Linked DNA regions of Homo sapiens: all the other regions are linked to region 1. Evidence: fine-mapped expression QTL. A gene starts in region 1. Each other region holds a variant in brackets. All regions are shown on one strand. Distances are from middle to middle.

The links.
Region 2: its variant is fine-mapped to the expression of HSD17B11 in whole blood (TOPMed, PIP above 0.99). The same link has a PIP of 0.9 or more in subcutaneous fat.
Region 3: its variant is fine-mapped to the expression of HSD17B11 in whole blood (INTERVAL, PIP above 0.99).
Region 4: its variant is fine-mapped to the expression of HSD17B11 in whole blood (TOPMed, PIP above 0.99).
Region 5: its variant is fine-mapped to the expression of HSD17B11 in whole blood (INTERVAL, PIP above 0.99).
Region 6: its variant is fine-mapped to the expression of HSD17B11 in whole blood (INTERVAL, PIP above 0.99).
Region 7: its variant is fine-mapped to the expression of HSD17B11 in adrenal gland (GTEx, PIP above 0.99).

Annotation. Positions count from the first base shown.
Region 1 is chr4:87,389,027-87,393,026 of GRCh38, forward strand. It overlaps HSD17B11 (hydroxysteroid 17-beta dehydrogenase 11), which reads right to left and starts at 2,162. Exons shown (of 7, transcript NM_016245.5): 1 at 1,835-2,162. The coding sequence starts at 2,044. RefSeq lists enhancers at 2,374-2,443, 2,457-3,029.
Region 2 is chr4:87,339,736-87,343,815 of GRCh38, forward strand. It overlaps HSD17B11 (hydroxysteroid 17-beta dehydrogenase 11), which reads right to left. Exons shown (of 7, transcript NM_016245.5): 6 at 755-871. Among named protein-coding and RNA genes, the nearest start is that of HSD17B13, 19 kb to the left of the region's middle. The variant T/C (reference allele first, on the strand shown) is at 1,794.
Region 3 is chr4:87,300,368-87,304,447 of GRCh38, forward strand. It overlaps HSD17B13 (hydroxysteroid 17-beta dehydrogenase 13), which reads right to left. Exons shown (of 7, transcript NM_178135.5): 7 at 3,427-4,080. It overlaps MIR5705 (microRNA 5705), which reads right to left and starts at 216; the gene lies at 128-216. The variant C/T (reference allele first, on the strand shown) is at 1,951.
Region 4 is chr4:87,366,181-87,370,260 of GRCh38, forward strand. All of the region lies in intron 4 of HSD17B11 (hydroxysteroid 17-beta dehydrogenase 11), which reads right to left. Among named protein-coding and RNA genes, the nearest start is that of HSD17B11, 23 kb to the right of the region's middle. The variant G/A (reference allele first, on the strand shown) is at 2,382.
Region 5 is chr4:87,435,928-87,440,007 of GRCh38, forward strand. NUDT9 (nudix hydrolase 9) reads left to right here. Exons shown (of 8, transcript NM_024047.5): 3 at 2,350-2,445. Among named protein-coding and RNA genes, the nearest start is that of NUDT9, 15 kb to the left of the region's middle. The variant T/A (reference allele first, on the strand shown) is at 1,522.
Region 6 is chr4:87,356,998-87,361,077 of GRCh38, forward strand. It overlaps HSD17B11 (hydroxysteroid 17-beta dehydrogenase 11), which reads right to left. Exons shown (of 7, transcript NM_016245.5): 5 at 282-419. Among named protein-coding and RNA genes, the nearest start is that of HSD17B11, 32 kb to the right of the region's middle. The variant T/A (reference allele first, on the strand shown) is at 1,788.
Region 7 is chr4:87,351,677-87,355,756 of GRCh38, forward strand. The region is part of intron 5 of HSD17B11 (hydroxysteroid 17-beta dehydrogenase 11); the gene reads right to left. Among named protein-coding and RNA genes, the nearest start is that of HSD17B13, 31 kb to the left of the region's middle. The variant C/T (reference allele first, on the strand shown) is at 2,271.

The DNA of each region.
Region 1 (4,000 bases):
TGTTATTTTATCCATTTTGCAGAAAAGGAACTAAAGCTGTGGAAACGTTGAGTAAGTTACCCAATCAGAAAACGAAAGCTCAGATGTGTCTGACTATATCACCATGCCAGACCTTGACCATGCTGGTCCAGGCTGGACCTGGGTTGTATTTTTCATTGCTCTTGTAATTACTTTTTTATTTATTAATTTAATTTAATTAATTTATTTATTTTTAAGACAGAGTTTTGCTCTTGTTGCCCAAGCTGGAATGCAATGGCATGATCTCGGCTCACTGCAACCTCTGCCTCCCAGGTTCAAGCAGTTCTCCTGCCTCAGCCTCATGAGTAGCTGGGATTACAAGTACACGCCACCACGCTCAACTAATTTTTTGTATTTTTGGTAGAAATGGGGTTTCACCATGTTAGCCAGGCTGGTCTTGAACTCCTGACCTCAGGTCATCTGCCCGCCTCGGCCTCCAAAAGTGCTGGGATTACAAGTGTGAGCCACCGCATCCAGCCTGCACTTGTAATTACTTAATGTCCATTTTCCCTACTAGACTGAGGTCATGGAACCTTATTTTCTGTTTGTCACCCTATCCCTAATGTCTAAGCAGCAGACAGTCATTATTTGTTGATTGCTGTCTTCATCAGCCACTCACTGGGTTAACCCTCATTTAACTTCACATCCTTTGAATTATTGTTTACAGCATTGCATGTCAACTAGTGTGTAATGGATAATGTTTCAGGCCATCAGGTATCTTCTAGAAACCCCTTTGTTCATCTACCAAAGGTCAAATAAAAGGTTGGATTCTAGGTCCTCTTCTCCTCCCTAAGCCACACCTACACTTGTCCTAGGTAAAAAATTACACTGAAAGTTTTTTTCCCTTTTATTGTTTTTACTAAAAGATGCTTTCCCGCCACTCCTTCAGTATCACAGGTCAAACGTGGTAAAAAATGTTTTTTAAAAAAATTTGAGACAGGGTCTCACTCTGTCACCCAGGCTGGAGTGCAGTGGGGCGTTTACAGCTCACTGCAGTCTCCACCTCCCAGGCTCAAGCAACCCCCCACCTCAGCCTCCCGGAAAAGATGCTTTTTAAAATTACTCTTGGCAATAACTATGGCAATGTAGCATTGGTTTCTGTTGAGTATAATCTTTTTGTTTGTTTTTTGAGACGGAGTCTAGCTCTGTCGCCCAGGCTGAAGTGCAGTGGCGCCATCTTGGCTCACTGCAACCTCCGCCCCGCGGGGTTCCCGCCATTCTCCTGCCTCAGCCTCCCCAATAGCTGGGACTACAGACGCCCGCCACCACGCCCGGCTAATTTTTTTTTGGTATTTTTAGTAGAGACGGGGTTTCAGTGTGTTAGGATGGTCTCGATCTCCTGACCTCGCGATCCGCCTGCCTTGGACTCCCAAAGTGCTGGGATTACAGGCGTGAGCCAACGGCGAGTATAATCTTTCAAACCACTTTTCTCATTAACAGTAAGTAGGACTTTCTCTTAATAGGTACAAGCTTCTTACTCTTTTAATATATAGCTAAAACGATTGTTTTTTCCCTATTTTTAAAATAGAGGGATCAATGAAATCAGGTTCAGGAAAAAATTATGAGTTATCCTTAGGGCAAAAATGGGGATCAATTTACAAATGGGGCAGTAACTGGGACTATTATAACCTCTAGGTCTGTTTATCATGTGATCATACAACATATTAATTCATGCCCTCCCATCTGCAAAATGGCAATACTAATTTTTTTTTCCTCCCTGCTTTGCAGAGATGAGGTAAAGGGTGGTTGCCAGCAAAATGCAGACACATCCACAAATTAAAGGTACCAGAAAGTAAAACATAGTAAACACTGTTACCTTATTTATATCCCAGAGAACCAGCTTGCTTTTAAGTTTAGCAAATTCATAGGCAGTCAGTCTCCCAATTCCATGCCCAGCTCCTGTAATCAGCACGATTTCGCCGGTGACTGATTTTCTCCTCTTAGGAATAAAAAGCTTCACGAAGGACTCTAGGGAGCAGACGATCAGTAACGGGAGAAGCAGGAGGATGTCCAGAAGAAATTTCATCCCTTTTGTGGCTGCGAGCGTTTGGTGTGTTTTTTTTTTTTTTTACCACTCTAAACTGCTTTTAGAGGGTAGCTCGATCTAACACCAGAAAGAGTAGGGGCGAGAGCAAGGAGGAACTCCCGTATCAAAGAAAAACAACTCCGAAACCGTTCCTTCCGCTGGGCTGGGCTTTGTTGGTCTTTCGCAATTGGCTCGGGCTGCAGTGCTTGCTAGCTCAGAGATCTGGGAGGGACGAAGTCCAGACCGGAGCAAAGCTTCCTAGTTCTGCTTTGCGCAGCCCCCACGCGGTGTGTGGCCGCGATTGTCTTTTACACCACTTTCTCCCGGTGTCGTGAGCCGGCCTTGGAGGGTTAGTTGCTCACTTGTTTTCCTAAATTGGATAAGTTCCAAGGATAACCGACAGTGTCCACAGGCCAGATGCTTCTTTCATAGTTGAAGGTTGCTTATCACTAGATAGGGGGTGCCGCTGGGCGCGGCGGCTCTCGCCTGTGATCCTGGCACTTTGAGAAGCCCTGGCGGGAGGATCGCTTGACCCCAGGAGTTCGAGATCAGCCTGAACAACATAGGGAGACCCCCGGTCTCTTTTTTTTTTTTTTTAATTAGCCAGGCGTAGTGGCGTGTGCCTGTAGTTCCAGCTACTCGAGAGACTGAGGCACGGGAATTGCTTGAGTCCAGGAGGTGGAGGCTACAGTGAGTGAAGATCGCGCCACTGCACTCCAGCCTGGACGAAAAGGCCAGACTTTGTCCTAAAAAACAAAAACTAGATAGAGGATGCAAATGTAGATTCCTATCTTAAAGGATCCTGAAAAGACCAATCGTTCTGCTTCCAGCTGAGAAATTGCGCTACATCACATTTTAGTTTGAACTAAGCACGATTTCTGGAAGACAGGGGAAATTTTGTCTGTTCAAGGACAGCTTCAATCAAGCGCCAGAAAAAATTGTTATCGTATTAAAGGGATTGTTTCCACAAGAAAGAAGAGTATATTTGAATAATCATTTTTCACTTGACCTATTAGAGTTTGAAAATAAAAAATATATGTTGTACTTTAGGAATTTTATCTTTATTCAAGTGAATAAATAGCAAATCATTTAGCCTAAAGATTACCTATGTAACATTTGGTTTTGTAGCCTATATAAATGGGTATTCAGTATATGCTAACTAGTGACTTGAAAAAATTCTAGAGATTGGTTACTGGAAGAAAAGACCTAACTAGGGCTTGTGTCCAGTAAGAGCTTAATAATGGTATTGCATGCATTTTTTTCCAACTCATTTTTGACAGACATTGGATTTGGGTTTTGCGCAAGACACTCCAGTGCTTGGGAAGGGACTTTGTTGTGTGACAATAGTCAACTTTCATATTTAAGAGCCAGAAAGATCACACAAAAAAATCAAAGTTCACAAATAGTTCAAACTCGATTGTCCCTCTTACTTAAGCAGCCATACGTTGTTATAGGGGATGAAGGGATAGTGGCAGCCTCACAAAAGTGAACCCCATTATAGAATTCTTTGAATTCAGAATATCTACAACTTTTTTTTGGATAGCCTCCAAATCCAAATTTACAAAACACTTGTATAGAAAGTTTACAAAGTGTTCTTCCACATATATTATTTCATTTGATTTTCAAAAGCCTCCTAGGAAATAGAGAAAAGTAGAGTCAGGATATATTTATACCTATACTGTAAATGAATAAATCTGTTAGATCAACTTTAAAATCTACACAGTGAGTAAAAGTGTAACTGGGGCTACACATATGTTCAGTGTTTGTCAATTTTTTGGTCCAACACCTACAGGAATAAATTACATCTGACATGGTGATCTACTATAAGAAGTGTTTCAACTATGTTGAGTTTCATATATTGAGGCTCTAGCTATGCTATTTTTTTTTTTTTTAAAGGAGTCTCCCTCTGTCTCCAGGCTGGAGTGCAGTGGCGAAATCTTGGCTCACAGCAACCTC
Region 2 (4,080 bases), 49 kb before region 1:
CCTAGAAAGTTATTGTATCTCTCAAAGCCCAGGCCACACTCCAAACCAAGTCAATCAGAATTTGGGGGAGTTGGTCTCAGGCAGCAGCATTTTTTAAACTTCCCAGGTGAATTCCAGTGTGCACCAAAGTTGAGAGCTACTGCTCCAAAGAAATGCTTCTCAAATTTTAATATGCGTACAAATCATCTAGGAGAACTTATTGAAATGCAAATTCTGACTCAAGAGATCAGGAGAGTCTGTATTTCTAACAAACTCCCAGGTAATGTGTGTAGTCCAAGAACCACATTGGAAGAAGCAAGACTCAAGGATTTCTAAAATTATAAAAAAAAATTTAGCAATTCATATACTTCAGTATGATTTTGCACAAAACAAAAGCTCAATGATTATCTGTTGTATCTTTAAATAAATACCTAAAACCTAACTCTGGTCTCCTTTAATATCATTGTTCTATGATTCCATTATGTAAAGATGCTTAAAAACTATCCTTCTTCAGAGTCATTCATTTATAAGACAAGACTTGCAGAAATATACAAATTTCTTTCTTTACAAAAAGTAAAAATGTGTGGAAATTACTCGGTTCATTTACCCAAGAGCTGTATCAATCTTGCCTCAATGTTATTGAGCCTGTTATTTTTATTAAGTCAATTCCATTTAACTGTACTTTATCAACTGCCTGATTTAAATGTCAGTAAAAAATGCAATAGATAATTGTTATTTTACCTTTCATTTCTAAGGTTTCTTAACTGTCACTTACCTTTCCAATGTTGTTAAAAAAGCTATAGAAGATGGAATAAAAATCATCTTCTGCTCAGTCAGAATCCCATGCATCAGCCTGTTTACCACTTCCTCAGGTTCCAGAGTGGGTCCCAAACTGAAATCAGAGTCAGTCTTCAGAAACAAAATACTTCACCGAGGCTTCAGCTTTAGTTTGGTGCTAACCAACAGCTTTAGTATGGTACAGACACCATAACATAACTGATTTGTAGTGTCTAGCCTAGTATAGGTGCTCAGAAATGGTAGCTACTTTACCATTGATAATAATAATAACAATCATTCACTTAGTGCTTATCGTGTACCACACACTGTGCTAAACCTTCTACATAGGTTATTCCATTGACGTTTGACAATAACTTTATGAAGGCAATATTATAATTCCTATTCCACAAATAAGAATTATAGAAGTAACTAAGATTCAAATATAATTGAGCTAGATTAGGTCTGACAACTTTACTTTTAAACTTTAAGCAGTCTCGGGAAAAAAATCAGATACTATTATACAAGTTTTATTATATACTCAGTCTCCTTAGTGAACAATTCCTAAAGCATCAGAGGAATTAGAATATGACAGGTACGTGCCCACCTTTAGGCCCTTCATCTCCACATGATATGCTTATATTTATTAGGTCTTTGGTTTTTTTGGTTGTTGTTGTTTTTTTTGGTTTGTTTGTTTTTTTGAGGCAGGGTCTCACTCTGTCACCCAGGCTGGAGTGCAGTGGTGAGATCTTGGCTCACTGCAACCTCCACCTACTGGGTTCAAGCGATTTTCCTGCCTTGGCCCCTCAAGTAGCTGGGACTACAGATGTACGCCACCACTCCAGGCTATTTTTTGTATTTTTAGTAGAGATAGGGTTTCACCATATTGCCCAGGCTGGTCTTGAACTCCTGGACTCAAGTGATCCGCCAGCCTCGGCCTCCCAAAGTGCCGGGATTGCAGGCAGGAGCCACTGCAATTAGGTTTTGGCTTTGTTACTTAGTTCCATGTTACATCTTTGTTGTGTAATCACTCAAGTATA[T/C]GTACCACAGACTAGCAGGTGGCCCCCAAAAAGTGGGTTTTAGGCTGGGTGTGACGGTTCAGGCCTGTATCCCCGTAATCCCAGCACTTTGGGAGGCTGAGGCGGGTGGAGCGCTTGAGCCCAGGACTTCGAGATCAGCCTAGCCATCATGGCAAAATCCTGTCTCTACAAAGAAATACAAAAGAAAATTAGGCAAGAGTGGTGGTGCACTCTTGTAGTGCTAGCTACTCAGGAGGCTGAGGCTAGAGGATCCTTTGAGCCTGGGAGGCTGAGGCTGCAGTGGGTCATGACTGTTCCACTGCATTCCAGCCTGGACAACAGAGCTAGACCCTGTCTCTAAATAAATAAATAGATAGATAAGTGGCTTAAAAAAATCAGTTACAGAAGTGCAATTAGAGAGGAGCTGCACAAGAGTTAGTACTGAGACTTTTTAACATTTTATTAATGACTTAGAAAAAATGATACATAATTAAATGTACTCATGAAATTTGCCATGCCACTAAACTATTTGGGTGGCTAACATTTTGGGGAGGCTTATTTTTAATGTGTGTGTCTAGTTAAAAGAAGTGAGACACCAGGCGTGGTGCTCAATGCCTGTAATCCCAGGACTTTGGGAGGCCGAGGCAAGCAGATCACTTGAGGTCAGGAGTCTGAGACCAGCCTGGCCAACATGATGAAACCCCATCTCTACTAAAAATACAAAATTAGCCAGGCATGATGGCAGGCACCTGTAATTCCAGCTACTCGAGAGGCTGAGGCAGGAGAATCACTAGAACCCAGGAGGCAGAGATTGTAGTGACCCAAGATCGTGCCACTGCACCCCAGCCTGGGCAACAAAGTGAAACTTCGCTGCAAAAAAAAAAAAAAAAAAGAAGTGAGGCAAAAAGTACTGGATGTGCCAGGCAGAGTGACTCACGCCTGTAATCTTAGCAATTTGGGAGGGTTAGGCGGGAGGATCACTTGAGCCCAGGAGTTGGAAACCAGCCTAGGCAAGATGGTGAGATCTCGTCTCAAAAAAACAAAAACAAAAACAAAACTGGATGAAATTCTTTAGAAATAAATAAAGAATAATTCATTCAGAAAAAAAATATATTTTGAAGTAAAACTGGGACAATTGAGAAGTATAATATTGTATTTAAAAGTGAGCATGATTATTGGATCCATGAAGGAGAGTAGAGCTTAAAAATATATAAGCTTTAATTCTCAGCACAGTTCATTCATTTATTAGAATATTGTGTTCACCATGGGACCTTGAAGCAATAGTATTACATATGAAAATCTTGGAGATTTGATAGGAGAGGAAATGTAATAATGAAATCGATGGCTTTTGGCCTAATGGAAGCAAAAAATCAAAGGCAACGGAAGCTTGCAGCATAAACAGGCAGGGGTATCAAGGAGGATGAATCCAGAAACTGAAGGATGCTATGCCTTGAAAAGCATTTAGAGGGAAATTCATTTTGTAGCACATTGCTACCAGACTTCAATATTCTCAAGCTCAATGAAAGCTTATAGACACCTGTGTAAATAGAGCACTCTCTCATCCACACTGTGGCCTTGCTAACCTACCTATCAAGCGGTGCTGCATTCACCAAACTTTTCTAGTGTACCCGATTTCTTTACCTAAGGTTTTTAGCCCCTGTCAGATAACTTCTTATTGAAATACAATGACTGTTCAATATCATAATTTTAAAAGCCAAAAGAAAAGGCTTTCAGAAAAAACTCAATTTCTTAGCAAAATAGTATCTTAATCATTAAAATGTCAGTATGTGGAAACATTTTTTTTCCCAATACGCTAAAGTTAACGAGAGTTACAAATCCCATTAAACAAATGTTCTTAATGGATTTTGTAGAAACTATCCAAAAACACTTCAAGCCAATCTGCTGGGGTGGGAAAGGAGGGTGCATGTTGGGGTAGAGAAATACTGAGGGGGAAGGAGTATTTTCGTCTGAAGGATTGTATTTGATGACCTACTTTAACCACTTAAGTAATGAGTAATTTTGGGGAAAACATTTCAACTCTTTTTTTTTTTTTTTTTTGAGACAGAGTCTCGCTCTGTCGCCCAGGCTGGAGTGCAGTGGCACGATCTCAGCTCACTGCAACCTCCGTCTCCCAGGCTCAAGCAATTCTCCTGCTTCAGCCTCCCAAGTAGCTGGGATTACAGGCATGTGCCACCACGCCTGGCTAATTTTTGTATTTTTAGTAGAGACGGGGTTTCACCATGTTAGCCAGGCTGGTCTCGAACTCCTGATCTCAGGTAATCTGCCTGTCTTGGCCTCCCAAAGTGCT
Region 3 (4,080 bases), 89 kb before region 1:
TATGAATTACCTAGGAGTTTTTAAAAAATGCAGATTCTGATTTTGTAAGTTTGAGATGGGTTGCAACAGTTTGTATTTCCAACATGCCTCTCATGCGGCAGCCATGCTGCAAGGGCATGTTTAAACTTCCCCATTTACACAGGCCATGAGCCCCGAAACACCCATCAGCAATCCTGGGATGGGTGTTTCGGGGCTCATGGCCTGTGTAAATGGGGAACTTTAATGTTAGATGTTCATTCCATCTTTGGAAACATTATTATATAGATCATATAAGATTTAGATTAGAAACTAACCAAGCATTTTCTCTTCAACCATACATTTACTCTGCTACTCCTTTAAGCTTTGCATACAGTTGAAGATTGGCTGTACCTATACCACCCTCAGATCTGAGCAAGTGAGGGCCTTACCCCAGTCCTGTGCCTCATAGAGCCTTATTCTTTGGAGTGCCCTCTATGAAATTTTCCAAGTCCTCTTCGGATGCCTGCTCTGTTTTTTCTCTCTGGGGTACTCTCCCTTTCTCTCCCTGTGTATAAGGTTGACCAGATATCCTGGGGAGCTCTGCAACTTGTAACTATAGGATCATCCTGGGGTCTTGTTTCCAGGCTTTCGTTTCAGGAGGGTGGCCTGGAGAGCAGACTGCTACTTCTGGTTGGCAAAGAATTTCTTTTGCAGGATTACATGAAATTTGGCTGCCAGAATGATGCTGACATGCTGATTTTGGATAATTCTCACTCACATTGGGCATAGATCTAATTTAGGGTTGTAAGCTATCTAAGGTCCACTGCCCAAGCCGCATGTGTTGACCCATGCATCCACTCGCAGTTTGTTCTGAGTATGATGCCACTTCTGCTATATAACATCCAAGGGCTGCAGGGTGACATCAGATGTCCTTACCCCGCTTGCCAATGGCATTCAGGAAAATCATCCTATCCCCTCTGCAGGTTCTATGCCATGGGTCAGGCAGTCCTTTTGGCTGGGGGTTGGGGGGTGGCTGCACTTATCTCTTCTGAGGGCTTTTAAGACTATTGCTTCTTCACAACAGTGGGCCTTTCTGACTGATGTGATGATGCTGTGTTCTCTTCTCCCTGGTCAATGTTAAGCTCTCCTAGAGGAGGGACAGACATTCCTTGTGCAAATGGGGCTGTTCATTTTGTTCTGTCCACAATCCCCTCTCTGCTGCTGGTGGTGTGTGGGAGGTAGGGTACGGTCAGGAGTGGCAGAGATCAATTCTAGAAATGTAATGATGATGGCCTAAAAAGTTCAAGACAAGACACAGTTGAAAGATGTGTTGTTCTATGTGATGCTATAACATTCTAAATGATAAATTTAAAATGAGCAATAAACAACGAATCATTCATGTTTTCTCGTATATATACCCTGGGTAAGACTTGAATTTGTGATTATCATCAAACATTGTACCAGTAACAATTGTACTATATTGAACTGTGTTGTACCAGTAACAATCTTTGAGTGATTGTCTCTGAGTGATACCCAGTATTCATGGGTAGCACAATGGATGATGCAATGTCAAAAGGCATAATGTAGCTAAGATTAAATAAATGGTAGCAGGGTATTGGAAAGGGGTGAAGATTCATATTATTTTATTACAAACATATTACAAAGAGCCATGGCATTATGAATAATAACAGCATTGCTACCCTTTCTTGTGGTAAAAGATATGAAATTAGCTAGGAATGGCTCATTTGATAAAAAAGAAATGATTCCTGGACCAAAGAGATAGTACCAGGATGCCGAGAAGAATCTTTACATGTACTGCTCGGACAATAAATACACAAATCTTCCTATTATTCTAAATCTTTATCAAAAAATCACTATACTGCATGCACATGGACCTATAAATTTTATAAAGCATTTTTAATAAAAGTGTTTATATAGATAGAAGCCCTGCAAAAAAATATTTGTCTGGTGATCTGCACATCCTAGCAGTAG[C/T]CCTTGGAACTGGGATTTTGGTGAAAGAGAGGGCTCTTAGAGAGAATTATAGATGAAGATTGTCATAGGAAAACATTTGGAAGCTCAGGTGGAGCTTTTTATTTTTTTGAGACGGAGTCTCACTCTGTTGCCCAGGCTGGAGTGCGGTGGCGTGATCTTAGCTCACTGCAACCTCCGCCTCCCAGGTTCAAGTGATTCTCCTGCCTCAGCCTCCTGAGTAGCTGGGATTACAGGCATGTACCACCATGCCCAGCTAAATTTTGTATATTTAGTAGAGACAGGGTTTCGCCTTGTTGGCCAGGCTGGTCTCGAACCCCTGACCTCAGGTGATCTGCCCCCCTTGGCCTCCCAAAGTGCTAGGATTACAAGCATGAGTCACCACGCCTGGCTGCAGGTGGAACTTTTAAGGAGGAGGACTACACTCAAAATAAGCAAGAAAAATGGACAAAGAGAGATGAATATTTTGCTCGCACATTTCTCTGAGCTTCATTCATAAAAGATTAAAACCAAAATGGAATTAAAATAAGAAGTTTTCTGCTCTGAACTTAACACTGGAATTTAAGAGGTTTCTATTTTTGTCAATATGTATATCATAAAATATTTTTTAGTTGCCTGTGTATGGTAATAGTTCGTCCGCAAAATGTTCTTTCTCAGCGTGCTCTTCCCTGACTCTACTACTTTAAATGCTCTCTCTCATATTTGCAGTCCCTTTATTGTTTGTCCCACCTACTAGAATGTGAGCTCTGTTAAGACAAGGAGTTTGCCTTATTCATATATGTTTCCCTGGGCCTAGAACTTTGAGGGCACTCAGTATTTGTTAAATTAATATTTAAATAGATGAACTAAGAAATACTGGAAACATCCTAAGTGCCTATCAAAAGGGAATGGTTAGAGTACCATTTTAGTACTGTGTACTCATGAAAAAAAGTTGAATTCTCTATACTGAAACAAACAGCTGTTTGTGATAAGTTGGTAAGCTAAAAGAGCAAGTTACAGAACATAATGTATGGTATGAAACTACTGATACGACCCATGCAATAAGAATATAATGTATTTGTCATGAACATGCATCAGTAAAAGACTGGAAGATTGTGCATTGACAGTGTGACCTCTGGGAAATGGGATTGCTGGGGGTAAGCTTCTATTTTTTACTTTCCATGTTTCTCTTTTGAATTTTTGTAACCATACTTTAAAAATAATACATTTTACTCATAAATTTCTTGATTATAAGGCAAGAAATTAAAAGAATGTTATGAAAAAAATTATTGCCGGTGACTAAGAAAAAAAATTAGAAACAATAGCACTGTGCTTAATCTCACACATAGAAAGGGGTCAGTAAGTTCCAGTTGATAAACCAGCACTCCTGCTGTCAAAGAAACCAGAGTTGAGAAAACCCCTGGATTCATTTAATAACTGCCAGATGTAGCTGTTACCATCCACATCCTTGGTTCTTGAAGGACACTCATAGAGACAGAGTTTAGAAGTCAAACGTTTTATTTTATAACTACAAGAGGTTATTTTTTTAAAGCACAATGACATATTTATTTTTAGTGAATTGTTTTTGTGACTTTTAAAAAAATCATTTGTTTTTAATAAAAACAAGAGGATAGTCCATGCAAAAGCATTCTATAATACATGTGAAAAACACACAAAACAAGATTAGTCTTGATGTAGTGGGAGTCGGATTATTTTTTCTATTAAAAAAAAAAAGGCTGGGCACGGTGGCTCACACCCGTAATCCCAGCACTTTGGGAGGCCGAGGCAGGTGGATCACGAGGTCAGGAGATCGAGACCATCTTGGCTAACATGGTGAAACCCCGTCTCTACAAAAAATACAAAAAATTAGCCGGGTGTGGTGGCGGGCGCCTGTAGTCCCAGCTACTCAGGAGGCTGAGGCAGGAGAATGGCGTGAACCCGGGAGGTGGAGCTTGCAGTGAGCTGAGATCATACCACTGCACTCCAGCCTGGGCGAAAGAGTGAGACTCCATCTCAAAAAAACAAAAAACAAAACAAAACAAAACAAAAACCAAAAAACCTTTCTTTCTTCCTTTTCTTCTCTTGGGTCCATTGTTTCTTATGTAATAGCCAGTACAGTTCCTTTTCCTGTGTTAGCTTTAATTTTTGAGCCTA
Region 4 (4,080 bases), 23 kb before region 1:
ATTGTAAGAGATTCTGTGTATGAACATATTAGCTAAAGTTAAAGGGGTATTATTCAGTTTTTCCATAAATTAAACATTGGAATAAAAGCACAACAGGTTTCTCTTAGAGGACTTATCTGCGCTTTCACAAAAAAATGTAAAGGGTTATAAAGGTTTATAAAATCTTACCTTAGGATTAAACATTAAAATTGGGTAAATATGTCTCTAAGGTTTTATTAAAAATTGGGTTTAACATTAATAATACATTAATGTAAAGGTGAAATTTCGCTTATTTGGTATAAAAATCATCCAGGAAGCATTCTCAAATGTGAAACAGTGTTTTGCTTTCTTTGGACTATATTTGTATAAATATGTTATTGGTATATGTTCCAAAGTTATAAGAAACTCCTTTATTTCTAATATGACTTAGTGTATGTTACTAATAATTATAATTGTTATGTAAAATTTTGTATGCCACAAAAGTAACCAAATTTCCTTATCAATTGTGGCTTTAATAGTGGCTGTCCTAAAGTTTTTATCATCCACAGACAGTTGTTGTCTTGTTTTAATCTTCTTTAAAAGGTGGTTTATAATCAACTATAGAATTCTAGCAGATGTTCTTAAATGCAGGTTGCTAATAACTTTAGAAATTGTAACATTAAAATAAAGAAAACAACTTTCGAAACTCTCATAAAAAGCTGGAATGTTCATGAATAACAAGTAGAACAGGAGTTAACTGAATTAACTGAACCAATAGAAAACTGAAGTAATTTTTTTTAACTTTGCTTAAAATATTGCTGATCTTTTATTTTTCAAAGGAAACTTCTTTTAAGCTATTTACAGCTTGCAGCAATTAAGTAAAATATACTCCTATGAACAAAATTTGAAACATATTTGTTTCTCTCTACCTGATTTCTCCGGAATGGAAACCAATTGTAAGTATTCTTAACTTATGGCAATATAGTTGTTTGTATAAGTGCAACAAAAATCTGTTTTCTTTTGTAATGGGACACTATTGGAGAAATTGGTTATTTTACCAAGGCTTTGACTGGAATGGTGTGCTTTCCTTTAAAGAATCAAACTTGACTTGTAAAGCCAATAAAAGCCCTATGGGAAACTGGCCTCATACTTTGCCTACACAGTCCCTGTACAGGGTTTCTGACCTATGGTAAGTAAAGAATGTCACTTTCTTACAGGTCCAGGAGGCCCAAGTTAACTTGGGACCTCAAAAGAAAAGTGTTTTACCCAACTCATAGGTATTTAAGGGTACAAACCCATGGCAGGGCTTAGCTTTAAAAAAGTCTTACCTGAGATTCCTTATAAAACAGAGTTCCATCAAAGCCAATTAAAAAGCCTGTGTGAAAAATAATTATTCTCGCTGCACTTTATACAAATAATCAGACCAAGTATAATAAAGCAAATCAGTCTTACCATAATGTGTCTTTAATAAAAATGGGAAACTGGAGAGAGAATATTATATTTCAAGAACTATAGTATACTTGTTATTAAATTCTAGTCTCAGTTGTTTTTAAGTTTGTTTCTGCAATTTAGGCTAACCCTGTTTATTCCTGTAAACCAACCAGGGATCTCTAACTGCTGCTCAGAAGAAACAAGAGGGATGGGTAATGTAAAATTCTAGGCACATTGCAATCAGCTAGCAACCCCATATCAGCTTGGTCTCAACAGTTGCCCAGTTCATGGAAAGCCTTCTAATTTAGTTTACTTGGAATAACTTTACTTACTTTGCTTTACTCTTATGGAATATATTGCTGTTATACCCTTTGTGTGGGAACACAGGACAGGCTTACTAAATGTTTTCTTAAACTAAATACTTATTAATCTCCCAGATATCACCTCTTGTCAAAACTCAAGAGTCGGCTAGGCACGGTGGCTCATGCCTGTAATCCCAGCACTTTGGGGGGCCGAGGCGGGTGGATCACAAGGTCAGGAGATCAAGACCATCCTGGCTAACATGGTGAAATCCCGTCTCTACTAAAAATACAAAAAATTAGCCGGGTGTGGTGGCGGGCACCTGTAGTCCCAGCTACTCAGGAGGCTGAGGCAGGAGAATGGCATGAACCCGGGAGGCAGAGTTTGCAGCGAGCTGAGATCGCACCACTGCACTCCAGCCTGGGTGACAGAGCGAGACTCCATCTCAAAAAAACAAAAAACACACACACAAAAAACTCAAGAGTCATGAATGGCCCTCGCCACACTGATGCTTTCTGACTAAGCTCCTCTCTACCCTGAACACAAGAGACCCTAACAGTTAGGCAGGAATATCATGGCCCCATTCAGCCTGAAGAAGTTACAAAAGATGGATTTTCATCCGTCTGCAACTCTTAGGATTAAGAGTTCTCTTATAAAAGGGAAGGGGGAAATGTCAAGAGGCATGTGAAACA[G/A]AACAACTCCATCTTGAATAGGAGCTGGGTAAAATGAGGCTGAAACCTACCGGACTGCATTCCCAGACTGTTAACGCATTCTAAGTCACAGGATGAGATAGGAGGTCAGCACAAAATACAGGTCATAAAGACCTCGCTGATGATAAAACAGGTTACAGTAAAGGAGATGGCCAAAACCCATTAAAACCAAAATGGCCACGAGAGTGACCTCTGGTCGTCCTCACTGCTACACTCCCACCAGCGCATGACAGTTTACAAATGCCATGGCAATGGCAGGAAGTTACCCTACATGGTCTAAAAAGGGGAGGCATGAATAACAAACTGCTTGTTTAGCAGATCATCAAGAAATAACCATAAAAATGGGCAACCAGCAGCCCTTAGGGCTGCTCTGTCTATGGAGTAGCCATTCTTTTATTCCTTTACTTTCTTAATAAACTTGCTTTCACTTTGCACTGTGGACTCACCCTGAATTCTTTCTTGCACGAGATCCAAGAACCCTCTCTTGAGGTCTGGATCGGGACTCCTTTCCATTAACATTTCTGCATGGTGAAGCTATCCATAAATTTAGTTTTTTCTTTTACTAAACCTTATTTTCTGATTTTACTTAAGTGACCAAAAATGCAAGAATATATTGAAAGTCAGAGTTAATGATCTTGAGTGTGTAAAAGGAATAACATATTTTTCAACTTTATGGTGAACCTATATATAGAAAGGCATATATATATATGAAAGCTAAAAGTGAGTAGATTTTTGCCCCCTGCACTTTGTAACATTACATCAAATTCCTTCTTATTAGAAATAGTCTAAATTATTCAGATGTCTTGGAGGGCTGAAAAAAATAGTCTGAATTAGTACTTCTTATTCCAAATTCTTTTTTTTTTTTTCTTTTTGTGTTGAGGTCTGTCTTTGTTGCCCAGGCTGGAGTGCAGTGGTGAAATCATGGCTCACTGCTGCCTTCAATTCCTGGGCTCAAGCAATCCTCCCACCTCAGCCTCCTGCGTAGCTGGGACTACAAGCACGCACCACCACACTTAGCTAATTTAAAATATTTTTTGTAGAGATGAGATCTTGCTATGTTACCCAAGCTATTCTTGAACTCCTGAGCTCAAGTGATCCTCCTGCCTTGGCCTCCCAAAGCCTGGGGGATTACAGGTGTCAGCCACCATGCCTGGCCCCAGATTTTTCTTTTAAATAACATTTTGTTACAAGCTAATGTTCAGAACTCAGTTTTACTGAGCGTTCCCATACTGGCAACTTTTCATGCTTATAAATTGGCTATTTGGGTTGACAGAATATATTAGCTAGCTAATTGTTTTCTTTTAAAAATCAAAATACTTGTGAACAAATTACTTAGCAAGCAGCAAAAAACATTTTAGAATAGAATCAAAAGCTTCACCTTCCACCATAAATCCAGTTCTTTTATCTTGCATTCTTCATATTAATCATTAAAACTGTTGAACTAAAACTCTGAAAAGAAATTAAAATTTTTTTCCTAAGATAGGCTACTAGAGCTAGAATAAATTATTTTCTGTGGCTGTAGTAACTCAGGACAATGATAGATGAGGGCTGAATTACAGGGAAAAGGATCAATACTCTTATTTTTCCTCTCATTTCATCCCAAAAACTAGGCGTCAGAGCATATATGATGAATTCCACTGGGGCAAAGCATTCTGGAAGCTAAAATTAGAGGTGGGAACTC
Region 5 (4,080 bases), 47 kb after region 1:
TTTTTGTGTGTGTAGTGAGAAGAGTTGAGATCCACTCTCAGCGAGTTTCAAGTATACAATACTGTATTATTACTATTTTTGAGACTGGTGCTCTCTCTCTCTGTCACCCAGGCTGGAGTACAGTGATGTGATCACAGCTTGCTCCAACCTTGAACTCCTGGGCTCAGGTGATTCTCCTGCCTCAGCCACCTGAGTAGCTAGGACTATGGGCATGTTCCACCATACTTGGCTAATTTTATTTTATTTTTAAGTAGAGATGGGGTCTCACTGTATTGTCCAGGCTGGACAAGAACAGTATTATTAACTGTAGTCACCACACTGTGCATTAGATCTCTAGAACTTACTCATTTTGCATAACTGAAACTTTGTACCCTTTGACCATCATCTCCCCATTTTTCCCATCCCTTTATGTTCCTTTTCTAACCCAGGGTGGAGTGCAGTGGTGTGATCATAGCTCACTGCAGCCTTGATCTCCTGGGCTCAAGTGATCCTCCCACTTCAGCCTCCTGAGCAGGTGGGACTACAGGTGTGTGCCACCATGCCTGGCTAACTTTTAAATTTTTAGCAGAGAAGAGTTCTCACTGTATCATCCAGTCTGGTCTCGAACTCCTGAGCTCAGGTGATCCTTCTGCCTTGGCCTCTCAAAGTGCTGGGATTACAGGCATGAGCCGGCACGCCTGGTGATTTTTTTAAAAGGGTGAATCTCTAGAGTCCCAAGGGCATTGCAGCTCTGGTTTTATAATTTCATGGTTTTTATCATTTAATTCTTTTTATTTGCATGTTAGATGGCAGATTGGCTAGAAGTCTTAAGAAAATGTATGGATCATTGAAATTGGAAATTATTCCCAAACAGACCACAGATATTTCTTTGCTCACTCAATGGAATTAAAGCAAGAAAAAAGTGAAACCTGTTTCAGAACTGCCCATGAACTATCCAGTGCTATGTAACTCTTTATTCACTGTCAGTGCAATTATGGCAGGGATTTTATAGTGGTGAGGAGAGTAGTTTAGTTATGTCTGTTTAAAAATGTTTTTGTTGGGCCAGGCACAGTGGCTCACGCCTGTAATCCCAGCACTTTGGGAGGCCGAGGCAGGCGGATCACTTGAGGTCAGGAGTTTGAGACCAGCTTGGCAAACATGATGAAACCCTGTGTATACCAAAAATATAAAAAATTAGCTGGGTATAGTGGCATGTTCCTGTAGTCCCAGCTACTCAGCAGGCTGAGGCAGGAGAGTCGCTTGAATCTGGGTGTTAGAGGTTGCAGTGAACCAAGATAATGCTACAGCATTCCAGCCTGGGTGACAGAACGAGACTCCATCTCAAAAAAAAAAAAAAAAAAAGAAAGAAAGAAAAAATAATTTTTTTTGTGGCATGATACAAATATAGTAAAGTGCACATTTCTTTATTTTTATTTTATTTATTTATTTTTCGAGATGGAGTCTCGCTCTGTCGCCCAGGCTGGAGTGCAGTGGCGCCATCTCGGCTCACTGGAAGCTCCACCTCCTGGGTTCACGCCATTC[T/A]CCTGCCTCAGCCTCCCGAGTAGCTGGGGCTACAGGTGCCCACCACCATGCCCAGCTAATTTTTTGTATTTTTTTAGTAGAGATGGGGTTCCACCATGTTAGCCAGGATGGTCTTGATCTCCTGACCTTGTGATCTGCCCACCTTGGCCTCCCAAAGTGCTGGGATTACAGGCGTGAGCCACCATGCCTGGCTGTAAAGTGCACATTTCTTACATGTGAAGGTGTGCAGCTCAGCAAAATTTTACATTTACATAGCTCTGTAAACCACTGCCCAGATCAAGATCTAGAACATTTCCAGCATAGTATGTCTGTTTTTAATTTACATCATATTTATTATGCAGCTTGTGGGGCAAATTCACTGCTTTGTGGGTTTACTCTGATAAGAATATTAATCAGTGTGCATTTGAAGAAATTTAAATTATTTTGAAATAGTAGAAACATCATCAGAAGGAATCTTATTTTTGGAATTACATGGGAGCAAATAGTTTTCATATTGTGCCCACAAACAATTCCTTCTTGCTAATAGACCTTCTTGTAGCATGAGGTAGGAGCTCTAGCTCTTCTGCTGGTAGTCCTTCCTGGAGGGGTTAGTAAGTTTAATAATAATATATATCTTTGTAATGTGTGGTGTTTTGGTTAAAACTTTTTTTTGCCTTAAAAATTGTTTTGAAGGAATAAGATGGATTTGTGAAAAAAAAAAAAAAACTAACCCTTAAAAATTTATTGTTTCAGGAATACTTCTTATGGATAACAGATTGACTTTCATTATTAAGCTGTTGGTAGTTTTGAATCATTATTTCTTATTTTACATTGGTATTCTCATTACAGTGAAAGTAATTTTTCTCCCAAGTTTAACGAAAAGGATGGGCATGTTGAGAGAAAGAGCAAGAATGGCCTGTATGAGATTGAAAATGGAAGACCGAGGTAGGTACTGGGAGCAGAGCATCTTACAATAATGAGTCACCAAAAAGTAGAAAAGATAGTTCATATTTATCAAATCCTTGTATGTGCCAGATGTTGTACAAATTTATTTACATATGTGATGTAATTAAATCTGCACAATAACCCTGTTGGTGGATATTTTTAATTGAATTTTACAGATAAGGGAAGAGAGTGTAAGCAATTTGTATACAGCTAGTAAGTGGCAGAGGCAGCGTTTGAATGCATCTTTTTGTAATTGTATCTTGGAAACAGAAATAATTGAATACATTAACAGAAAGAAAAATTGTTCAGCAGATATTTATTAAATGGTATAGTATCTTAAAGTAAGAATTTATCCAAACATGTAAGAGTAAAAATAAAGATAACCCAATAATTCGGGTCTTTCTATACTTTTTAAAAAATGATTTTCCTATACAACTCAAAAATTATCCATTTTCCTTAAGATATTATAAAAGTGTATCAGCCTGTTCTCACAGTGCTATACAGACATACCTGGCCGGGCGCAGTGGCTCACGCCTGTAATCCCAGCACTTTGGGAGGCTGAGGTGGGCGGATCCCCTAAGGTCAGGAGTTTAAGACCAGCCTGACCAACATGGAGAAACCCCATCTTTACTAAAGATAAAAAATTTAGCCAGGCGTGGTGGCGGGCACCTGTAATCCCAGCTACTCGGGAGGCTGAGGGAGGAGAATTGCTTGAACCGGGAGGCGGAGGTTGCGGTGGGCTGAGATTGCGCCACTGCACTCCAGCCTGGGCGACAGAGCGAGACTCCATCTCAAAAAAAAAAATAGACATACCCAAGACTGGGTAATGTATAAGGGAAAGAAGTTTAATTAACTTACAGTTCTGCATGGCTGGGGAGGCCTCAGGAAACCTACTGTCATGGTGGAAGGCAAGAGAGAAGCAAAGGTACATCTTACATGGCAACAGGTGACAGAGAGTGAATAAGTAAAGGGGGAAGAGCCCCTTATAAAACCATCAGATTGGCCAGGCACAGTGGCTCACACCTGTAATCCCAGCACTTTGGGAGGCCAAGGCGGGTGGATCACCTGAGATCAGGAGTTGAAGACCAGCCTGGCCAATATGGCAGAACCCTGTCTCTACTAAAAATACAAAAATTAGCTGGGCTTGGTGGCGGGTACCTGTAATTCCAGCTACTCGGGAGGCTGAGGCAGGAGAATCGCTTGAACCCAGGAGGCGGAGGTTGGAGTGAGCCAGGATTGTGCCGCTGCACTCCAGCCTGGGCAACAGAGTGAGACTCCATCTCAAAAAAACAAACAACAAAAAAACCATCAGCTCTCATGAGAACTCACTCACTATCATGAGAACAGCATGGAGAAACCGTCCCCCATGATCCAGTCACCTCCCACCAGGTTCTGCCCTCAATTTTCGAGAATTAAAATTTGAGGTGAGATTTGGGTGGAGTCACAGAGCCAAATCATATTAAAAAGTTAGAAAGAAGTGTAAAAATTAGCATGTACCAAATAAAACCAAAGAAGGATCACAGATTTGAAATCATGGTTATCATCTTATAAAAATGTTACACTTTGTATTCTTGGTTCCTGTAAGACAAGGAAATGGTAGTACTCCTCTCATCTCAACCTGGTCCTTCAGTTTTG
Region 6 (4,080 bases), 32 kb before region 1:
TATGCATATTTAAGCCTGTGAATCATTACTCAGGAGAAGAAAAAAGGAAGAGTTAGCAAGTTTACCAATGTCATTCATATTTACTTTTTTAGTCACGCTCCCTTGCTTTCTCTCTTTTTGGCTTTCCACCTGTTTTCCCACAATCTGCAGAAACTGAAATCAAAATGAACTAAGAGCTTTAACTATCAGGTGTTTTCAGGATTAAAACATTTAGGAAAACCCACAGAATGGCTGGTATTCATAGCAACCACCAATCCTTTTGTCTCAATTTCTCAACTTACCTTGTACTTGGATTTTTGATGAAGCCAGTGTTTACGAAATTAGGACACAGACATGTTGTTTTGACTCCAGTTATTTGTAAGGCAGCCAGTTCATCTGTCAAAGTTTTATGAAATCCAACAGCAGCAAACTTGCTTGAACTGAAAATAGAGAGTTTACAAAATAATTCAAGAATTCTGAAATGTCTGCCTGTTTTCCTCAGTTCAGCATGGTCCTCTGCAGAGCAATGTGGGCATTCCCTGAGTCTCAGGCCCCAGCCCAGAGCTACTGCATCAGAGCCCACATCTTACAAGATTCTCAGGTAAATCTGTAGGCACATTAAGGTCCAAGAAGCCCTGACATAGAAGATTTACTGCATCTTAGCATCACTTACGGAATAAGAACATTTCCTTAAAAAGCCTTTTAAAGAAAATTAGTAGAGTATTTGTTTTTGTTGTTGTTCCACAAAATTCAGTGTCACTATAAGCTGTTCCTTATTTACTTTAAGATGTCCATAGAATTTGCTGAAAACTTTTCCTGGATAAATCCTATTCTTCCTTTAAGTCACAGCTTCACTTCCTCAAAGAGGCCTTTCCTAACCCCCAGTCTAAATTATTTTCTCATTATATAGTAATTTTCAGTTTTCTATGATAGTATCTATCTCAGATTTGTAACTGAACATTCATTAGAGAAATTTTTTTTTTTTTTTTTTTTTTTTTTTTTTGAGACAGAGTCTTGCTCTGTCACCCAGGCTGGAGTGCGGTGGTGCGATCTCGGCTCACTGCAAGCTCCGCCTCCCGGGTTCCCGCCATTCTCCTGCCTCAGCCTCCGCAGTAGCTGGGACTACAGGCGCCCGCCACCATGCTCGGCTAATTTTTTGTATTTTTAGTAGAGACGGGTTTTCACCATGTTAGCCAGGATGGTCTCGATTTCCTGACCTCGTGATCTGCCCACCTCGGCCTCCCAAAGTGCTGGCATTACAGGCGTGAGCCACCACGCCCAGCTGAGATTAAATTTTTTAAAACATCTGTTTCCCACACCTTTCCTATAAGCTCCATGACTGTTTTGGTCACCAGTGAATCTCCAGGGCCCAGCACAGTGCTTGGCTCTTAGGTGCTCAATGAATATTTGTCAAATGAATGAATCACAATGCAAAGCGTTTATTTTAACAGCTCTTTCATTTGGAAGTAGTAGTGAAATTACTTATTCTAAATGGACATTACTTTCTCAGGTTTTTTTAATTTAAAAAGGGCTTTATTGAGATATAAATTCATATGTCACACAAAGCATTCACTTAATGTACACAATTAAATGGTTTTTGATATATAATTAACTTAAAAGTTGTGGTATAATATATATCATGTAAAACATGTCATTTTAACCATTTTTAAGTGTGCAATTCAGTGGCAATAATTATCAGATAATCTTTTATTCTGTTAAATCTGTATGAATTAGCAATTACACAAAGTAGCTATACATTCTGGCCAGTTAATCTATGCTTTGGAAGACAGAAAGCTGTGGAAATTTTT[T/A]AAAAAATTTTAAAAAAAATTTCTTACCTTTTTAAAAAAAGTTTAGGCACTTATTGAAGCTGATATGGTTTGGCTGTGTCCCCACCCAAATCTCATCAACAATTGTAATCCGAATTGTAATCCCCACATGTTGAGGGAGGGCACTGGTGGGAGGTGACTGGATCGTGGGGGCAGTTTTCCCCATGCTGTTCTCGTGATAGTGGGGGAGTTCTCACAAGATCTGATGGTTTTTTAGGTGTTTGGCAGTTCGTCTCTTGCTCTTACTCTCTCTCGCTGTCTCTCTCCTGCTGCCATTTAAGACATGCCTGCTTCCCCTTCCTCTGTAATTGTAAGTTTCCTGAGGCCTCCCCAGCCACGCAGAACTGTGAGTCAATTGAACCTCTTTCCTTTATAAATTGGCCAGTCTTGGGCAGTTATTTATAGCAGGGTGAGAGGGGACTAATACAGAAGGCTTAAAAGAAAGATTGTTAGATTAAATTATATGAGATTAAAAGCTTCTGTATACTGAAAAACAACATAAATAAAAATCAGATCTAAAATAGATTACTAAGTGCTAGACATTGCCCTCAGTTATTCTGATGCATTTTGGAGTTTTTTGGGGAGTCTTTATCTGTCACTTAGGCTGGAGTGCAGTGATGCAATCATAGCTCACTTCAACCTAGGAACTTCTGTGCTCAAGCAATCCTATCACCTCAGCCTCCCAAGTAGCTGGGACTACAGGCATGTGCCACAACACTTGAATAATTATTTTACTTTATTGTAGAGATGTGGGTCTCGCTACGTTGCATAGGCTGGTTTCAAACTCCTGGGGTTAAGTCATACTTTTGCCTCAGTCTCTCACGGCGCTGGGATTATAAGTGTGAGCCACAGTACCTGGCCTATTCTAAATAATTATTTTGTTTAATCTTCATAATACCCCTATAAAATATATTAAGATCCTCATTTACCAAAGAGGAAACTGAGGTAAAGATGGGTTATCAAACTTGCCTGAAGATACAAAACAAAGTGGCAGAATCAGGTTTTACGTGTGGGTAGTAAACCAGGTTTATATATGATATATTCTAAACTTTATTAACTCCAAGCAAATTAAGAGGCAAGTGACAAACTGGTAAAGCATTTGCAACATATAAGACAAGGATAAGGTTAATATATGGCAACTTTTATAAAGGAATAAGACAATACTCTAATAGATAAATGGCTAAAGGGCATTCATGGAAAAATCATAATATAAAAATGCCAGTAGATGTAGGCATATAAAAATGATTTACTTTAGGAATAATTCATATAAAAGCAAAGTAAAACAAGACGGAATTCTTGCCTAGCAGTAATTATAAGGACAGAAATTTTCATCTGAGTTTTTTTCAATGTACAGATATTTCACCTCATATAATTGAATCTAGCAATCTTTTCTTTTTAAGGCTTCATTCAATATATGTCAAACTTTCAAAAAAGTGACAAAAAACACTTTCTTTCCACAGCTTTCTATTTTCCAAAGCACAGGTTAACTGGTAGCCTTTTCTGGAAGGCAGTTTGGCAAAAGGTATCAAATTCATTAAAAGTATGCCACGCTCTCAGATCCGGTGTTTATCCCAAGGTAATAATCAATGATGTCTCCAAAGATTAATGTTCAAGGATAGTCCCTGGAGTGCAGTTCATTAAAGCAAATAGTTGGGAATAATGTGAAATGTCTGTAGTGGACAGCTGTTGTTTTTTCCCATCAGCATTTGTGTCCCCTTGTTCTGGTAATACCGCTGTCACCAAATGCATACAGTGATTGGCTCCAGGCTAGTCTAGTCACTGACCTCTAGAACAAGAACGTTTGAAGCCACTGTTGAAGTGATGTTTTTTTTCCCTTCCTGCTGGACTTGGAATTTAAAGGGTTTAACCCTGGAACTTCTGGTAGATATCTGGCCATCAGAGGAAGACAGCCTGCTTGAGACTTTAATCACAGAGCCAAAAAATTCCTCTTTGGGCCTGGGGCAGTTTAAGTTTTTTGTTCCTTGCAACTGAAAGAGTGACAAAATACCAATGATAATGAGTAAATTGAATAACTAGTGGCACGTATGTGCAGTGGTATCCCACGCAGAAATAGAAAACGATGTTGCACATAATATTTATTAACATATATTATTTTAAATTAAGAGCCAAAATTATATATTTTTTCAATGCATAACTATATGTTTGCATTTAAAATATCCTTAAAAATTATAACATGCATATCATGATTATTTTGTCAGAGGCATGTAAACCACAGCAACTCCATCTTAAATAGGAGCTGGGTAAAATAAGGCTG
Region 7 (4,080 bases), 37 kb before region 1:
GATTGGGGAAGTTCTCCTGGATAATATCCTGCAGAGTGTTTTCCAACTTGGTTCCATTCTCCACATCACTTTCAGGTACACCAATCAGACGTAGATTTGGTCTTTTCACATAGTCCCATATTTCTTGGAGGCTTTGCTCATTTCTTTTTATTCTTTTTTCTCTAAACTTCCCTTCTCGCTTCATTTCATTCATTTCATCTTCCATTGCTGATACCCTTTCTTCCAGTTGATCGCATCGGCTCCTGAGGCTTCTGCATTCTTCACGTAGTTCTCGAGCCTTGGTTTTCAGCTCCATCAGCTCCTTTAAGCACTTCTCTGTATTGGTTATTCTAGTTATACATTCTTCTAAATTTTTTTCAAAGTTTTCAACTTCTTTGCCTTTGGTTTGAATGTCCTCCCGTAGCTCAGAGTAATTTGATCGTCTGAAGCCTTCTTCTCTCAGCTCGTCAAAATCATTCTCCATCCAGCTTTGTTCTGTTGCTGGTGAGGAACTGCGTTCCTTTGGAGGAGGAGAGGCGCTCTGCGTTTTAGAGTTTCCAGTTTTTCTGTTCTGTTTTTCCCCCATCTTTGTGGTTTTATCTACTTTTGGTCTTTGATGATGGTGATGTACAGATGGGTTTTCGGTGTAGATGTCCTTTCTGGTTGTTAGTTTTCCTTCTAACAGACAGGACCCTCAGCTGCAGGTCTGTTGGAATACCCTGCCGTGTGAGGTGTCAGTGTGCCCCTGCTGGGGGGTGCCTCCCAGTTAGGCTGCTCGGGGGTCAGGAGTCAGGGACCCACTTGAGGAGGCAGTCTGCCCGTTCTCAGATCTCCAGCTGCGTGCTGGGAGAACCACTGCTCTCTTCAAAGCTGTCAGACAGGGACACTTAAGTCTGCAGAGGTTACTGCTGTCTTTTTGTTTGTCTGTGCCCTGCCCCCAGAGGTGGAGCCTACAGAGGCAGGCAGGCCTCCTTGAGCTGTGGTGGGCTCCACCCAGTTCGAGCTTCCCGGCTGCTTTGTTTACCTAAGCAAGCCTGGGCAATGGCGGGCGCCCCTCCCCCAGCCTCGTTGCCGCCTTGCAGTTTGATCTCAGACTGCTGTGCTAGCAATCAGCGAGATTCCGTGGGCGTAGGACCCTCCGAGCCAGGTGTGGGATATAGTCTCGTGGTGCGCCGTTTCTTAAGCCGGTCTGAAAAGCGCAATATTCGGGTGGGAGTGACCCGATTTTCCAGGTGCGTCCGTCACCCCTTTCTTTGACTCGGAAAGGGAACTCCCTGACCCCTTGCGCTTCCCAGGTGAGGCAATGCCTCGCCCTGCTTCGGCTCGCGCACGGTGCGCACACACACTGGCCTGCGCCCACTGTCTGGCACTCCCTAGTGAGATGAACCCGGTACCTCAGATGGAAATGCAGAAATCACCGTCTTCTGCGTCGCTCACGCTGGGAGCTGTAGACCGGAGCTGTTCCTATTCGGCCATCTTGGCTCCTCCCTCTAGTATTCTGGATTTTTAACAGCAAATCAGCAATAAGCATCCTCGGGCACACATATTTTCACTTTTGGATAATTATCTCCCTCAGGTAGATTCATAAAGGGGGATTACTGGGCCAAAGGGTATATAACTTGTAATTTAATTTCTCTAAACCTCAGATCTCTCTCATCTACTGAAGAGGGACTAATAACATCTCCCCAAAAGTATTGTTGTGAGGTTTAAGAAAATGACATTTTATTTGGTGTCTGAAATGTAAACAGGTATTTAACGAGGAACATGTTCTCTCTTCTAATTAGAAGTAATAAGTTTCTATATTAAAACCAACTTCATCTTTGGGGTCTACTTTAGTACCAGCTTAGCCTCAAAGAGGTTCATATGTCAGGACCAATCTTTAGGCCCTTCCTTAGCCAGGTTTATATTCAGCCTAGAATCATCTTAGCCTCTTTTCACACTTTTCCTCCAGAGTGCAAATCAGTGCAGCATTTCTGGAGAGGAGTTTGGCAATATGTAGGAATTAATGGCACTAGTAAGTTTTGTCAGGAGAGGGCGCTGGAGCCCACGTTAAGGTCAGCTCTGTGCGGCCTTGTAGGGGGGGCAAGGTTAAAAAATTCAATTATAACTTTTGAAAATAGGATGTCTGTTTTTAACTACTGAAAGACAGTATGACTTTAAAACTTGACTCAAATATGTTATTTTAGTATCCACATACTGAAAAAGAAATTGAGGAAACTGGCAAGTTTTATCTTCAACATCTGCTTTCAGTTTTAGTGAAGCTTATCCTCACTACTTTCATTCCTCAGATC[C/T]ATTTCCCAACCTGAAAAACATATCTGTCCCTTCTCTTCTCTCTTCAGACTCCAATTAGGGTTCTCTTGTTTAATACTGATAAATTTAAACATTGACCTCTAAAATATACACTCTTACTTTTGTTTTCTAACAAAAATTGTGTATTAAAAATAGATTTTAAAGACTGTTTGATAGATTCTTGGGGGCTTGAGATCTTTGGACAGCTCCCAAATTTCTGTCTAACGTTGGCTTTCTGTTCTGCTTCCCTGTGGGATGACTTAAATTAAGTGTGTTTAAAATAGAACCTGGCGGCCGTGGATCAGCTGTCAAGAGTTCGAGACCAGCCTGACCAATATGATGAAACTCCGTCTCCACTAAAAAAATAATAATAATAATAAAATAGAACTGTTAGGCCAGGCATGGTGACTCATGCCTGTAATCCCAGCACTTTGAGAGGCTGAAGTTGGGAGAATGACTTGAGCCCAGGAGTTCAATTGAGTTCAAGGAGCCCTTGAGCCCAGCCTGTGCAACATAGGGAGACCCTGTCTCTACAAAAAATTTAGAAATTAGCCAGGTGTGGGGACACATGCCTGTATGGTCCCAGGGACTGGGGAGGCTGATGTGGGAGAATAGGTTGAGCCCAGGAGGTCAAGGCTGCAGCGAGCTGTGATTGTGCCACTGCATCCAGCCTGGGTGACAGAGCGAATCCTTGTCTCAAAAAAAATAAAAAAAATAAAAAAAGGAAAAAAATTAGAATCTTCAATTTTACCTTCAAATTAACCCTTCAAGTGGCCACACTGAATATTTTTCATTAATTTTAAATACATTTTCAACAAAGGCAGCTGAATTGGGGGAAATATGGGGAAGTTTGAGGGGGCAGAATAAAACTTAAAAATTGAATCTTGGCTGGATGCAATGACTCATGCTTATAATCTTGGCACTTTGGGAGGTGAGGTGGAGGTGGGAGAATTGCTCAAGGCCAATTTGAGACCAGCCTGGGCAAACAGCAAAATCCTGGCTCTCAAAAAAAAAAAAAAAAAAAAAAATTAGCTGGGCATGATGGCACACACACTGTAGTCCTACTCAGGAGGCTGAGGTGGAGGGTTGCTTGAGCCCAGTTCAAGGTTACAGTGAGCCATGATCACACCACTGCACTTCAGCCTAAATGAGACCCTGTCTGAAAAACAAAACAAAACCAAGCAAAATTGAATCTCATCATTACAATAAAATTGAGAATCCAAAAGTCTATCCAAGTAAGCATGTGAACTTATAATATGAATTTAATATCAGTGAGGAAAATGATGTATTATTTAATAAATAGTGCAGAAAACTCATTAACTATTTGGAAAAAACTATACTGTGACCTTACTTCTTAAATCAAAATAAATTTGGGTGGGGCAATGATTTAAATATGAAAAATGCAACCATAAAATATATGCTAGAAAAAATATGGGTAAATATTTTCAAAAACTTGGAATGAGAAAGACCTTTCTAAACACCTCACAGAACCTAAAGTCCATGAGAAAAAAATCCCTAAGAAAATTTTAATGTAAAACTAAATGAAAATAGGCTTAAAAGCAAACAAAAAACAACTGGGGAAAAAAAAAACATATGCAACAGATGTGATATATAAAGGGGTTTCTCAAATGTATGAAGAATTGTTTCTTATGTATTAATTAAAAATCTCTAGAGCTCAGCTGGGCATGGTGGCTCATGCCTGTAATCCCAGCACTTTGGGAGGCCAAGGTGGGCGGATCACTTGAGGCCTGGAGTTTGAGAACAGCCTGGCCAACGTGGCGAAACCCCATCTCTATTAAAAATACGGAAATT